3 separate regions of the Homo sapiens genome follow, and all the other regions are reported to be linked to region 1. The links are microRNA targets in miRTarBase. Many come from high-throughput screens and were not tested one by one. Region 1 holds a microRNA gene; each other region holds the end of a gene's coding sequence.

Evidence for each region. The annotated mature microRNA hsa-miR-548ag reads AAAGGUAAUUGUGGUUUCUGC and lies in region 1 at 2,919-2,939, shown strand. An mRNA with a match to its seed (bases 2 to 7 or 8) in the 3' UTR can be bound and repressed. Matches are read on the target gene's strand: a 7mer-m8 pairs with bases 2 to 8, a 7mer-A1 pairs with bases 2 to 7 and ends in A, and an 8mer does both.
Region 2: the mRNA of PSMG2 is a reported target of hsa-miR-548ag. Seed matches in the 3' UTR shown: 7mer-A1 at 4,062-4,068.
Region 3: miRTarBase lists BICD2 as a target of hsa-miR-548ag. Seed matches in the 3' UTR shown: 7mer-m8 at 3,859-3,865 and 8mer at 3,972-3,979.

Annotation. Positions count from the first base shown.
Region 1 is chr4:60,919,705-60,924,882 of GRCh38, forward strand. MIR548AG1 (microRNA 548ag-1) reads left to right here and starts at 2,915; the gene lies at 2,915-2,980.
Region 2 is chr18:12,724,616-12,729,615 of GRCh38, reverse strand. PSMG2 (proteasome assembly chaperone 2) reads right to left here. Exons shown (of 7, transcript NM_020232.5): 6 at 4,997-5,000; 7 at 3,876-4,177. The coding sequence ends at 4,085. Among named protein-coding and RNA genes, the nearest start is that of LINC01882, 22 kb to the left of the region's middle.
Region 3 is chr9:92,710,622-92,715,621 of GRCh38, reverse strand. BICD2 (BICD cargo adaptor 2) reads left to right here. Exons shown (of 7, transcript NM_001003800.2): 7 at 159-4,259. The coding sequence ends at 468. Among named protein-coding and RNA genes, the nearest start is that of IPPK, 43 kb to the right of the region's middle.

The DNA of each region.
Region 1 (5,178 bases):
TGACCTGTAAGGTCCATATGAATAAGAAGATAGTCGTAACTAGTCTAAGAGTTTTAAGTAAATGTGTGAGCAATCAAGAATAAAACAAAAACTCTAAAAACTGACTCTAAAGTATACTCTAATGGGATCTAATTGTTTAGATCTCATATATTGTGTATTTTTGAATGCCTTGTCTTGCCTCCATTAAAAAGGCAAACAGATAATAAAACTTCATTTAACAGAATTGAGGTTCACTAAGCTTTGTGAGATACTGTTGGTTTCTCTGGATATTTGCAAGGAAATTATTCTGAATCACAGACTTAAAATTTGCCAGAGGATTAATGGCTGAGTTTCTGAATGTACAGTGATCATTAGTGTACTTTTTTGAATTTGAGGTATTTCTTACTGAGTAGCGAATCACCATATATATTTATTGTCAGTATTGCTTTACATTTTACTTACAAAATTTGTTCCTTCACTTCTAACCAAGGAAACTATGACATAGAAACTTTGCAAATAGGTTTGGTTTTGAGGTCATATATATGGAAAGAACTATATTTAATTTTATAAGGTGTCACTATTTAAAATATTTTTTATTCTGACTACTAACAAGTGTGAACACGAGGTGTTCTATATATAAAACTTCTACTATCTATGAAGCTATTTAGGAGATATGAATACCACTAAGGATGTATGTTTTAAAAGACAAAACTTTCTTCTTCCTAGATATTTCTTAATTTAGAAAGCCCATACCAGAATTATCTTTAGAATAAACAAGAAGCAATAAATTTGGACTAAATTACATCAATTTCCTTTACTATAGAATTATGCCACAAAACTTTGATAATAACTTTTAATTTGAATCACATATTATAATTAATTAGTTGCTTGTCATAGATAAATGCATAAAACTAAAGCTGAATTAAATTACGTTTTCAGAGAATGTAGAGTAATGCTCTGTTGGCTTCTATTTTGTTGAGTGAAGCTATACAATAAGCTGGTCCTTATTTTTTAAAGTATAGGAAAAGATATTCAGAATGAAAATTTTAAGGATTTCTTACCTACCTTTCCCTTAAAATGAAACTGACAAATGGTAGGCAGTACTTGGCTATTGACTGGTGTACAAAAAAAGAAACATCTCAAAACATAAATGAATAAGTATACAATTTTTATTCTTTAGAAAGACATATAGAGCTATATTTCCCTTAGAAAAATATTAGATGTCACCACTAATTCACTTTTATTGTATCCCAAATTATCAGAAAGTCAAATGAGATATTTCAATCAAATACATGGCAATGACTGTATTTCACACAACCATGTTTACATTTTGAATTTGGTGAGTGAAATTCATGATTGTTTAGCTCCTATTACACATCATCCAAAATCTTCATCACAGTTCAGATCTGATAAAATATGATAATTGAGGATGCTAAGTTAGAAGTTAGATAATATCTATTCCTGAGTCTGATTCTGATCAAAGTGTGGTAGCAAAGCTTTGATATGCATCCTGAGTACAAAACACTGTCAAAATAAGTTTCTAAGGCAGATTAGATGTTGCTATGAACACCAATATAAAATCCATAATGCTTTAAAACATTATAACAGTACACTGTATATTGTTTTTCATTTCATGCTGCTTAAACACTGGACTCATTTTCTGAGTCAATCTTCTTTACTGTTTTATAAGCCTTTGGCAGATACTATTTTTCTCCATGCTACTTACAAGCTGAATTCCTTGCTTGCCTTTGAGAGTCTTTAATTTTTTCTTTGTTTTTCCTCAGATTTGTTTATTAAGAAAAATTATATTGAATAGATATATTTGAGCTTATGTGATAAAGTGTCTTACATATCTCGGTTATAAATAAGTCAACATATAGAATAATATATGGATATATATTAATCTATGTCTAGAGTAATAGGGTACATAATTAGGCATTTCTTCTATATAGCAATGGTCCCCCAACCTTTTTGACACCAGGGAACAGTTCTATGGAAGACAATTTTTCCACGGACCATGGGGGTTGTGGGAGATGGTTTTCGGATGACTCAAGTGCATTACATTTATTGTGCACTTTATTTCTATTATTATTACATTGTAATATATAATGAAATAATTATACAACTCACCATAATGTAGAATCAGTGGGAGCCCTGCGCTTGTTTTCCTGCAACTAGACGGTCCCATGTGGGGGTGACTGGAGACAGTGATAGATCATCAGGCATAAAGAGCATGCAGCCTAGATCCCTGGCATGCACAGTTCACAATAGAATTCATGCGCCTATGAGAATCTGATGTCACTGCTGCTCTGATGAAAGCTACAGCTCAGGTGCTAATGCAAGTGATGGGGAGTGGCCATAAATATAAATGAAGTTTTGCTTGCTTACCTGACACTCACCTCCCGCTGTGTGGCTCAGTTCCTAAGAGGCTATGGACTGGTATATTGTATATATTGTATATTGTATATAAGGATATACTTTTAAATATTTTGCCTAGTTCATCTTTCTCATCACACTCCCTAACAAAGTATACTTTAAATCTCTTACGCAAAATTCATCTTATCACTTTGTTCTTACCAAATTGATAATTATTTATGCATGTTAGTAATTCTAAATCTCAGCGATCCCTGTTGTTCCATAACAGTACCACTGCTGGAAACTTTAGCTTATAGTATTGGGTCAAAAGGAGAATGCTGGGTGCTTCAAAATAAAAGAGAAGTTTGCAGTGATTGTCATTTTATAGCCAAGATGAGACTTAAAGACTTCCTCAAAGTAGATACTCAATAAGCATACTTTATTTTTATTACTGCACTCACATTAGGTTTTATAATACTGTGATATTTACAATGTATATTTCCAAAAATAATTTTATGTGTTTTATTTCATATACTTCTGAGAATTTCTCTGAAATATAGAGGCAGATATTATTAGGTTGGTGCAAAGGTAATTGTGGTTTCTGCTTTTAAAGGTAATGGCAAATATTACATTTACTTTTGCACCAACCTAATACATATTCTTCTTAGATTTTCTTAGTCCCTTATTCATCCTCCTTTAGTATAGAGCCAAATCATAGCCATAGACATATCCTTATCACTTAATCACATGATCAGTTAGATTGTAATGAAAAACTCAAGTAAATAAATGTAATTGAGTACACTAACTCATAGAAAGAAATGTTTTGATTAAGGTCACACTATTTTTTAAGAACTAAAAAAGCCAGACGTTGATTCCAGAAGTACAGACACCAGCTTTCTCTCTCCTTTAGAATACATTTCTGAGAAAAGTTATTTATCTACCTGAAAAGAAAAAAAAAAAGATTCAGTGCCTGGCATCTAGATAAAAATATATATCTCGTGTCAAAATTCAAGCAAAGTAAAATAATGTGTTGTCAGCCTAAAAAGTCCAAAACAGAATGCTTTTGGTGCTGTTGTATTAACTCTTGCTGAATTAAGAGTACCTTACCAAAGCAATATCTACTTGTTCAGGGATTTCTTTTCAGTTGATCAGTCACCCCCAGACTGGTGGATCACACATTTGTCTTTAACTGTAAAACATCATAGGGCAGGGTTTCACTCTTTAGCAATTGAATCTCCGCAGCTGTATTTACATATCAATTATGGTCAGTCCTGCTGCTTCTCAGTACACATCCTGTGATTGTTAAATTGATTAGAAAGTTAAGACACTAAAGAAACACTCTTTACATTGCTTCTTGAAGACAAAGCTGTCACTGTGACATTAGGAGGATGTACTATCCTATAACTTGTCTATTTTCTTCTCAACCTTATTGTGACTTATTCACAGAAAATAAAGTTATTTATCCTTTTCTTGGTCGAATTCCACCCTTAACTATATTGGTTGAAACATGAAATTACATTTTTATGGGTAAAAAGGATGGTTCAGTCTAATATACTTGCCTAGTGCTTGTGGATGCCATACTAAGAACAATTTCATATGCATTATTCTGTAATAGTTACTAGTAGTGATTCTAATATTAGACTGCCTGGGTTCAAATTCCCCTGCTTACCCAATGTGTGACTGAACAAATTGCTATATAGATGTCTGTGTATCTGTTCCTTCAATTTTAAAATGAGAAAAATAATGGCTCTTACTTCATTGGATTATTTTAGAAATCAAATGAGTTAACATTTTGTAAAGTGCTTGGAACAGTGTCTGGACTAAAAGTATTTGTTAAATTTAAAATATATGTTTGTGTGTCTATTACATATAAATATATACATATATAGTTACATATACTTATATATTGTATATACTATATATAATATATAATTATACCATATTATATAATTACCTATAAAATTACAGTATAAAATAACATACATATACTTTACTTCTGGAAGTATTACAGTATATATTTCAAAAAACTATCATGCATTTCATTGTATACACTTTTAAAAATTTCTCTGACATATAGAGGCAAATATTTTATAGATATAAAAATTTATTGTTTGACTAGGAATTATTGATCTACTCACTCATCAAATTTATATTATAACTTTACATTCTGGGTGCTATGTTTCCTGAAATGTTTTCACAGACTGGTGGAATAGTTAAGACATAGTTTTTTTAAAAAAATTACAATAATTTGATGAAGAATATGGGGGGAAAAGCACTGACAAAAAGTGTTCAGGGTGGCAATTCAGAAAAGAAGTGGATGTTTTGTTTGTTTTTACAATAACAAGCACTGAAATTCACAAACTTCAAATTATCACACAATTGTGAGAATATCTATATTTAGCACAGTCTAAATGGTTATCAAAGTAATGTGAAAATTTAAGAAAAATTGGACTTCCTAGTAAAGGCTATCTTTGTAAAGCATATCTCTATATGAGAGTTGGGTCAAATATTTGGAGAAATAATCTGGTGACATTCGAATTGTACTACTACAGTCCTGGTTTTCTATTCTGCTTTCTGAAAAGAAAATAATAAATTTACGATCTACTGGGAAAAAAAAAAAAGAAGAAGGAAGAGAGCTCCACAGCAGCAGCTTATGACATTGTTTAAAAGCAGGGTTTCTGGAGCTTGACTCCCAGGGTTCAAGAGCTAGTTTTGCCACTCTCAAGCTGTGTGAGTTTAAGCAAGGAACTTTATTTCTCTGTGTACTCATTTGTCCAAATGTTGAATGATAATAATAATAATGGGGTTCTTTTTCTTTGTAAAACATTTAGTTCAGTGCTAGAT
Region 2 (5,000 bases), not on the chromosome of region 1:
AAAGAATATAGGTATTTACTTTGTGGTTATCCTGGGACTTACATGAGACATCTTATACTTGTAATAATCTATTTTAAGCTGATAACAACTTACTCAATCATATACAAAAACCACTTTTACAACTCTACTTTTAAATTATTGATGTAGGGCCAGGTGCAGTGGCTCATGCCTGTAACCCCAGCACTTTTGGAGGCCAAGGTGGGAGGATGGCTTGAGCTCAGGAGTTCAAAACCAGCCTGGACAACATAGCAAGATCTCTCATCTTAAAAAAATTATTTTTAAAATTTTTATTTCAATGGTTTTTGGGGTACAGGTGGTTTTTGGTTACCTGGATAAGTTCTTCAGTGGTGATTTCTGAGATTTTAGTGTACCCATCACCCAAGCAGTCTATGTTATAATCAACATGTAGTGTTTTATTCCTCACCCCCTCCAAACCTCCCTGGCTAAGTCCTCAAAGTCCATTATATCATTCTTTTTTTTTTTTTTTACCCTGAGATGGAGTCTTGTTTTGTTGCCTAGGCTGGAGTGCAGTGGTGCAATCTTGGCTCACTGCAACCTCCACCTCCTGGGTGATTCTTGTGCCTCACCCTCCCTAGTAGGTGGGACTACAAGCACATGCCGCCACATCCAGCTAATTTTTGTATTTTTTTTTTTTTGTAGAGACAGGGTTTCACCATGTTGGCCAGGCTGGTCTCGAACTCCTGGCCTCAAGTGATCCACCCACCTTGACATCCCAAAGTGCTGGGGTTACAGGTGTGAGCCACTGTGCCTGGCCTGCTAAAGTCCATTATATCATTCTTATGCCTTTGAGCCCTCATAGCTTAGCTCCCACTTGTGAGAGGTACAATATTTGGTTTTCCATTTCTGAGTTACTTTACTTAGAATAATGGCCTCTGGCTCCATCCAAGTTGCTGCAAAAGACATTATTTCATTCCTTTTTATGGCTGAAGAGTAGTACTCCACGATGAATATACCACATTTTCTTTATCCACTCATTGGTTGATGGTCACTTAGGTTGGTTCTATATCTTTGCAATTGTGAATTGTGCTGCTATAAACGTGTGTGCATGTGTCTTTTTCATATAATGACTTATTTTCCTTTGGGTATATACCCTGTAGTGGGATTGCTGGATCAGATGGTGTTCTACTTTTTGTTCTTTAAGGAATCTCCGCACTGTTTCCCATAGTGGTTGTACTAATTTACATTCCCACCAGCAGTGTAGAAGTGTTCCCTTTTCACCACATTCACACCAACATCTATTGTTTTTTTGACTTTTTAATTATGATCGTTCTTGCAGGAGTAAGGTGATATCTCATTGCGGTCTTAACATCTCCCTGATGATTAGCGATGTTGAGCATTTTTTCATGTTCGTTGGCTGCTTGTATATCTTCTTTTGAGAATTGTCTATTTATGTTCTTTGCCACTTTGTAATGGGATTATTTTTTTCTTGCTCATTTGAGTTCCTTATAGATTCTGGATATTATTCCTTTGTCGGATGCATAGTTTGCAAATTTCTCCCACTCTGTGGGTTGTCTGCTTACTCTGCTGTTTGTTTTGCTGTGCAAAAGCTAAAAAAAAAATTATTGATGTCACAAATTACACCTTTACATAGTGCGTACCCATTAAGATATTTTAACATATTTTTATAGTTACAGTGTTTGTTTTGATTTTTAGAGATGGGGCTTCACTTTTTTGCCCAGGCTGGTCTTAAACTCCTGGCTTCAAGAAATCTTCCCCAAGTGCTGGGATGACATGTGTGGGTCACCGTGCCTGGCCAGTTACAGTTATTTTTATGCTTTGTCTTGTCAATTCTGGACCAGAATTAAAAGTGCACTACCATTATAGTCCTGAAGGATTCTGCATTTGTCTATATTTAGTTTGCCAGTGAGCCTCATATTTTCTTTTTCTTTTTGGGACAGAGTCTCGCTCTGTTGCCCAGGTTGGAGTGCAGTGGCATGATCTTGGCTCACTGCAACCGCCGCCTTCTGGGTTTGAGCAATTCTCCTGCCTCAGCCTCCCGCATAGCTGGGATTACAAGTGTGTGCCACCATGTCTGGCTAATTTGTTTTTTTGTATTTTTAGTAGAGATGGGGTTTCACCATATTGGTCAGGCTGGTCGCGAACTCCTGACCTCAGGTGATCCTCCCACCTCAGCCTCCCAAAGTGCTGGGGTTATAGGTGTAAGGCACTACACTCGGCCACTCCCAATCTTTGCATACTGGCTTTGTACAGGGCAGACCTTCACCAGCTAGCCCAGGTAGAGATTCTGAAACCTCTTAAATGTTTTTCCAAGTTCAACTTTTTAGGATTGTGTTATTTCCCAACTGAAGGTTGCTGGTTTTTCATCTTGTAATCTCTTGCTCCCTCTGGTGTCTGTCTTCAGAATTGCACGTTCCCTAGTGCTGCAGCTGCAAGTCGCCCCTTTGTTCTCAGTGGCTCTCTGGCAAAGCATGACAGCTTCCTATAAGCACCCCAAGTTAGATGAGATGGGCAACAGTCCCTTGGGCAGCACTACAAAAAGCTGCAATGCTGGCGTGTAAGTTCCATTCCTCCTGGGAGAGAAAATGCAAGTTGGGTGATTTCTCTTGGTGGTGTCCAGCCACACTGGCCTGTCTGTGGTACTACAGGCTCTGGTGGCACGGCAAACGATCCTCCAACTCTCCCGTGCTTTTAGCAGACTCCAGACATCCAAAGGATGCCAGTTCTGTCAGTATTCCAAGTCAGACAAGACGAAAGAGTCAGAATCTTGGTCACATGCTCCAACGTTCTCTACCTCTCTCCCCCTCACCGAGTCTGCCCCCTTCAACCCAGGGAAAAGCCAGGAGCTGGCGTACTCGCCATCATGCTGGGCTGTCATCCTGGGTGGAGTAAAGTGAAATGACTCTTCTTACTCATTTCAACGTGGCTGTTCTTAATTTTGCACTCACCTGGGGATACTGCAACTTAACTGGTTTCTGGTATCCTGGTCTATAAATTAAACTGGTGTCTCTGTGGGGTAATGAGGACTGGTACTTCCTATTTTGCCATCTTGCTGATGTCAACCCCCATTTCATATTTTAACCAAAAGGGAAACAGAAATAGGCCACAGAATCCAGCATGATTTACATATCAAAAGGAAACCTTTCCGGAGTGCTGGGAAGTAGTTGTATCCTTAAATATTACAAGCCCTTGTGTTACAGATGAGAGAGCCAAGGCACAGAGGTAACACAGTGAAATCGTACATCCCAAAGACTAGGGGTGAACAGTGACTAGTATGCAGCAGGCACTCGAAAATGATAACTATTTTTATTATTTCTTTTATAGTAAAATTATTCTAAAATGGGGAAACTATCCTGGATTATTGGGGTGGGCCCAATGCAATCACAGGGTCCTTTTATAACTGAGAGATTTGAAGATGCTAAGCTGCTGGCTTTGAAGATAGAAGGGCCCATGAGCCAAATAATATGGCAGCCTCTAGAAGCTGGAAACAGCAGAACACAAATTCTCCCTAAGGCCTTCCTCAGGAGCAGTGCCCTGCGATCACCCTGATTTTAGTCTCGTCAGACCCACTGTTGGATTTCTGACTCCTAGAACTCAGAAGTCAGAATTTAAAAGCAAATTTGTGGCTGGGCATAGTGGTGTAATGCCTGTAATCTCAGCACTTTGGGAGGACATGGCAGGAGGATTGCCTGAGCCCAGGAGTTTGAGACCAGCCTGGGCAACATGGCAAGACCTCGTCTCATTTTACTTAAAATACAGAATGAAAATTAATTAATTAGTTAATGAAAAAATTAAACTGGTGTGTTTTAAGTCACTAAGTTTGTGGTGATTTATTAGAGACAAACTAGGAAGCTAATAGAGAGTCTGAAATTAAAAAAAATACATTTAAGACAAAATTACTTAGGAAATAAAATTTTATTGTACAAAATTTACATTTGGTGCATATGATGAAAAGCATGGCAAAGAGACCCTTAATCTTTTTTCTTTGATATTTACTGTGAAAGTAATTTCCTAATACCAGATCATACAATTTTTTTGTATAGAATGTTTAACAGCTGTGTTGGTAGTAAGTGTTTTGGGTATAAGGTATAAAACAGAAATTAGATCAGAAAAGTGCAGGGGGAAGACCACTGCCAAAGAGTAATCTCCAAGAACTTGGTATTTTCCACCGTGAGGCAGATACTGTGGGGTCATCGCTCTGTAATTGAAGAACAAAATATTTTAATCTTTAAACTTTACCATCAAATCTCCTTTTAAAGTGAATTATAAAACTCTCCTTTTGTGTTCCTTTTGGTTGGCACTTTTATAGCCAGGTTTTATTGTTAAGGAAAAATAAAGTTTCTTTGTCTTCATGTCAACTGAAGATAAATTTCTTTAAGTTCCAAATTATAAAGATATGCCAGAAAGGCTGTAGATGAAGTTTATTAGGGAAAATCACATTCAAAAAGAATAGGGATTAAAAAAAAAATCAGCATTATGTGATTTGTATCAATTTGTTCTTGGCAAAAGCATGAATTAAAAAGCTAGTTACCCATCTTAGAAAGCAGCCTTATGCTCAGTGTTCTGTTATGCCTAAAGGCTAACTCACTTCCCTGGGTGTAATGCTCTCATTTCATAATAGAGAAAAATATCAACTGTAATACATATTCAATAGCTACAGTATTGCTCACATAGCAATACTTTTTACTTCCCTAAAAAAATTCCTGAATTCCACAGAAGGCTTGTTTATTATTGCAAGACTATGTCTGGCATAATTAATCTAACATGAATAGTAAGTACAATGAAGAACTAAGGATTTTCCTTTTTGGAAAGTCAGCTTTAATGAAAAAACTGTAAATAATAGGTTGGTTAACTGTCCTCTAATTTTCAAAAGTTCAGCTTAAACTAAATTTTATGTAAAGATATGTCTATATTTAATACAAACGTTCACTTACTTGGTCTACTTAGGTAGTATATAAAGTGCGAGTTAATGAATACAACCAGACAAAGAAGAGGCTTAAGCTATAATAGAACTTACAAGT
Region 3 (5,000 bases), not on the chromosome of region 1:
AATAATTCTTCCCCAGCCACACCCTCCAGTCCAGAGGCCACATTGAAGGATGGCTCTGGTATAGGGCTGTCAGAGGGCCGTGCAGCTTAGCCCTGCCCTGCCCTGCCCTCCTCTGCTCGGCTCTGCCCGCCCCTCAGTCATGTTTTTGGTACCCACAGGTGTGACGAGTACATTACACAGCTGGATGAGATGCAGCGGCAGCTGGCGGCTGCTGAGGACGAGAAGAAGACGCTGAACTCGCTGCTGCGCATGGCCATCCAGCAGAAGCTGGCGCTGACCCAGCGGCTGGAGCTGCTCGAGCTGGACCATGAGCAGACCCGGCGTGGCCGTGCCAAAGCCGCCCCGAAGACCAAGCCAGCCACACCGAGCGTAAGTCACACCTGTGCCTGTGCCAGCGACAGGGCCGAGGGCACCGGGCTGGCCAACCAGGTGTTCTGCAGCGAGAAGCACAGCATTTACTGTGATTAGGGGCTGTGGGGCGCCGCACGCTGCAGCTAACATCTGCTTCACCTCAACTAACCCAGCAGCAGCGGGACGGCGGTGCTAGGTCAATCTTAACGTGACTAATGCACAGAGGGTAGGAGTCTAGCCGAGGCGCCATGGGGCGTTGCATCAGCAGGACACTTGTGAGAGCTTTGTGTCGCTTCTCACTCCTCAAAGCCCCCTCAGGAGCACCCAGTCCTCAGCTGCTCTCTTAGGTGGGGGTCAGAGGTGGGGATAGAGCTGCACATTCTTGCAGCAGATGTGTGATGAAAGCATCTTCTAAGCCCTGCGCACCCGTGGGGAAACCCAAGGGAGGAGTCCTGGTCCTGCTCCCTCAGCACCCAAAAGGGGCAGAACCTGAGTTGAGACTTGCATGTTCCTCGCATGTGTCTAATGTCAGCACTAGAAAGCAGTTTTAGGAGGTTCCAGCCTGCAGCATAGGTACGACCTCAGAGGATGGCTTTGCACTTGGCATAGTTTCATGGAAAGGAGTACGTTGTAGTTTATGCAGTATCTGACTGCAAATCATATTCAGGAAAGAAGTGCAGAATTTCTTCCCCAAGCCCAGAGAAGAGCAGCCCTGAGCCCCTGTATTCTGCTGGCCAGACACACATGGCACAGACACAGCTGACCATAACCCAGGAATCCAGAGCTCGGTTTCTCATTTCTGAGATCAGGATGCTTGTATAGTGGCCTGTGAGGTGACAGATTGGCAGGGCCCAAGGCCCCAGGTTTTCATTTTTCATGAGAAAAGCTTTCCAAGTGCCTGGCCAGACCTTGGTCCTTAGTGCAGAGCCCGTCCTTTTGTACTTGGGGTGACCCCAGCAGCCAATTATCCGGCCTTCCATAGGGGGTTCAGTCCCAAAGACATGGGGCTTTGAAAACCCTAGCCTGAAGTCTGAGCCACCAAGGGCTTGGCTGGGTTGGACACCCACAGGTGTATCCAGAGCCCAGCCCGGTGCTGGGAAAGCTTTGCATAGGGCCAGGGCCACTTGTCAGGATTCACAGGTAGGAGATGTTTAGGTCTCTTTATTTAGTGCAATCTGGGGGATGGCAACAGAGAAAGAGGAAAGGTAGCTGTAGGGTTCTCCCATTTCCAGAGGCTCCATCCACACCTGCCTTCCCACATTCTGAGCAGAACTTTTCTCAGTACTTTTTTCCCGATCACCCTGTGGGACCAGCTGGACCTGAGGCTGCAGTCTTCTCTCCTGCAGGCTGCTTGCCTTGTCTCTCATGCGGAAGAGGCATTCGAGTTACCTGGTGAGAGACCGTGTTGCCCCCTCCCACAGCTCTCTGCCCTGCGCGTTCTTCCCTTTGGTGCCGAGTATGTTTCGGTCCCCTCCAGACTCCAGGACACGCCCATGTATGTCCCCTGCGTGTTCATCCTGGGCCCAGATCCCCCTGCCCCAGCAAGACTCGCAGTGGGATGGCTGCTGGCATGCCCACCCTGCATGCGCTTTGCCCTCTCCTTGCAAGCCTGGCACATAGCTTCTCTCCATACTCCTAAGGGACTTTGCAGACACCCAAGCCACTGGGACCCCTGCTAACACATGCAGGTCTTCTCTTCTGCCAACTAACGTGCTCGCGCCCTCCCAGCACGTGGAGAGCTTCAATTGTCAGATAAACAGGAAGCGACAGATGACCGCTTTCTAACGCTCTCTTTTCTCCCGTTTTCAGCTGTAGAGTAGCTGCCAGGAGGACTTGGCCACCCGGCCCTGTCACACTGCAGCCCCTTCCCCTTCCCTCTCGTGGCCCACAAGGAGGAAGGAAGGGCAACCTAAAAGCCCACTTAGAAACTTTTTGGATATGCCACTGCAATTCTTTTCAAAATAGCATTCCCCAGGTTTTTAATGGGAGGAAAAAAAGCTTTAATGTTGAGCATGCTGCGAGCTGCTGCGTGGAAAGGCCTCTGTATGGGCCGAAGACCCTTCTTCCCTGGCTGCCAGGCTCGCCAGGAGCCCACTGGAAACGCCCACCACGGGGGCTCCTTGTTACACATGTTCTTTTTTTATCCGATCAACCTGTGCACTTTTGATATTTTGATATTATATTTGCTTCCTTAATTCCTCGCGTAGAGACGGTCTCAGGTGCCGTGGTCTATGCTCGTGGTCCTGTAGCTGTCCGCCTCAGCTCCCACCGTGTTTGTCTGGTGTCAGCACGAGGCAGAGCTGTGTGCTCCATAGCGTGTAGCTTTAGACTCGGAGATGAGTGCTTTGACCCAGCGAGGAGCTCAGCTAAGTGTATCCACGCTGTGGTTCAGCAGCCTTTAGATCATACGGCATTGTGGTTCATGTTTGAAATTACAGATTTTAAATGCCATGTTCATTAAGAAATCCAGGGTATTCAGATTCTGGGGTTTTTCATATTGTATTATTATTATTCTTAGGAATAGTTCAATGTAACAAGAAGAAAACTTGACCTTTGCTCTGGTTAAAACAGTAATAGGCACTTGAAAAAAAAAGATAAATTATTGAATGAGTAGTATTACCTACAAATTCCAGAATTTTCTGGGTTTTAGGACGTTGTGAAGCATGACTGATTAACAGAATTTTATACAACTGTACCAATAAAATTCCAAATTGGAATTGTTTTGTTACTCTGGTTGTTGTGCCAAATTGTGGTACACTTAGAAAATTCTACAGTCGTCGATTTTTAGGGTGTTCTCTTTCAACACCTTTTTGTTAGTAATCATTGCCAGTAGTGCCTTCATCAGTTAAGGGAGGTGTCCCAGCACAGATCATTCTCAAAAGCGAGCAGGGAAGAGCTAGTGGGCATGCTGAAGGCCAGCGTGGACAGCAGGTGAGGCAGGTGCTCCTCACACCCAGACCTGGGCATCTTCATTGAGGGAAAGAAAACAGTCATTGTGCAAAATTCTGTTAGTCAGTGATTCTTTACTTGCAAATTCAGGGGCTTAGAAAATGAAAGCAAACACAAAACCTTGAGTGTGCTTTGGGAACCAAATGGACCTTCTGGGACAAGCTGAGCAAGCTGTATGAACGCCACGTTTGTGAAGAGCTGAGGGTATCAGGAGGGCCGACGCTGTGTTGGCATGCGCAGTAGGGGATGAGGGTTAGCCATAGTATTCTTTGCAAATGTGAAAGCGAGACATTATATCTTCTCTTGCTTGGTGTAACTAATCACTGTTAATTTCAGGAAACAGAACTCATTAAAACTCCTTAGCAAACCAGGTCTACATCCTGTTTTGTTTGCTGAGTGAGGTTAGTGGGAGTGGTCAAATTGGTACTCTTGGAGGAAGAAAAACTGTCCTTCCTTCTCCAAAAAAGGAAAAATTATAATAATATAAATGACAAAAATAAAAGAATTCTGTTTCCTGGAATAAGCATTTCTTATTCCTAGTTGTAGGGACTCCTATTTTTACCTTCCGTTACAGTGTTGATTCATAAGAAATATTGTTACATTTGAGATAACTTCATCTGTATGGGGTATTTATTTGCAATGATGTCTGAGTACTGTATTTTTTCTGTGCATTACCTTAGTGTCAGAATGTTGGTCTTTATTTTAAAGTCATATGCATGTTCTCCTGCCAAGGAACCTTTACACAGACCCAAACAAAAAAATAATAATCAAATGCCTTCAATTTCTGAGAAAATGAGGCAGAGCATGGAAAAGGAATAGGAAGGAGAAATTAATTGAGATTTTCAGGACACAGACATATGATGTGAATGCCTACAAAGCCAGTGCGCATAGGAACAGTGGGCCTGGGTAAAGAGTCACATTGGTAGGACCAATAAAGAATAATAAAAAGACAAAGCACATGTTTGTTCTCTGTGGTTGTTCTGACTCCGTGCTCCAGATAACTGTGGTTTAAGCAAGGCACAATAAATCCACTGCCTCAAACAACAACAGCAACAAGCCTATCAGGTAACCCTGGTAGTGGGAACTGGAAGCAGCCTGGGGTCCACCTTCAGGAGAATGGGGAGGGGTCATGTATATGTGGGGAGGCTGTCACTCCATCCCTGAAACAAGAATGTGTTCAAGGACCCAGAAGATGAGGGTAGGGAAAGGGTAGAGTTGGTGTCTGGGTGCTTGTGCCAATCAAATACACCACCAGGCAGAAGTGAGCCAGGCCACACTGGGCCACGCACATGAGTGGAGTGGAGGGCACAGACAATGCCCCCCCCTGGAAAGATGCCTGCCCCCCAGGGCCCTGACGCCTCATAACTCTGTCCTCAAGGGTCTTCTGAAGTGCAGCATCAGGTTTGAAGCCACAGCAGCATGTTGGTAAGAACACATTGTGTATACATAGACTAAAACTAGGAGTAGCCTATGCTATCCTGATGAGGAGGCAGGGATTCAGATGATGTAGAATCCTTTGCTGTCTAAACTCTCACTCTCTGAACCCAGGAATCACATTTGTCTGTAGGAATATGTACAAATATACAGTGGGCACGTTCATATGGTTGCTTGTGGGTGTGAGAAAAGGGGACAGTGTCTAGTCAAGGGGACAGTAAATACCAGGACACACTCCTGCCACCTCCTAGTCCGACAGCCTCAGT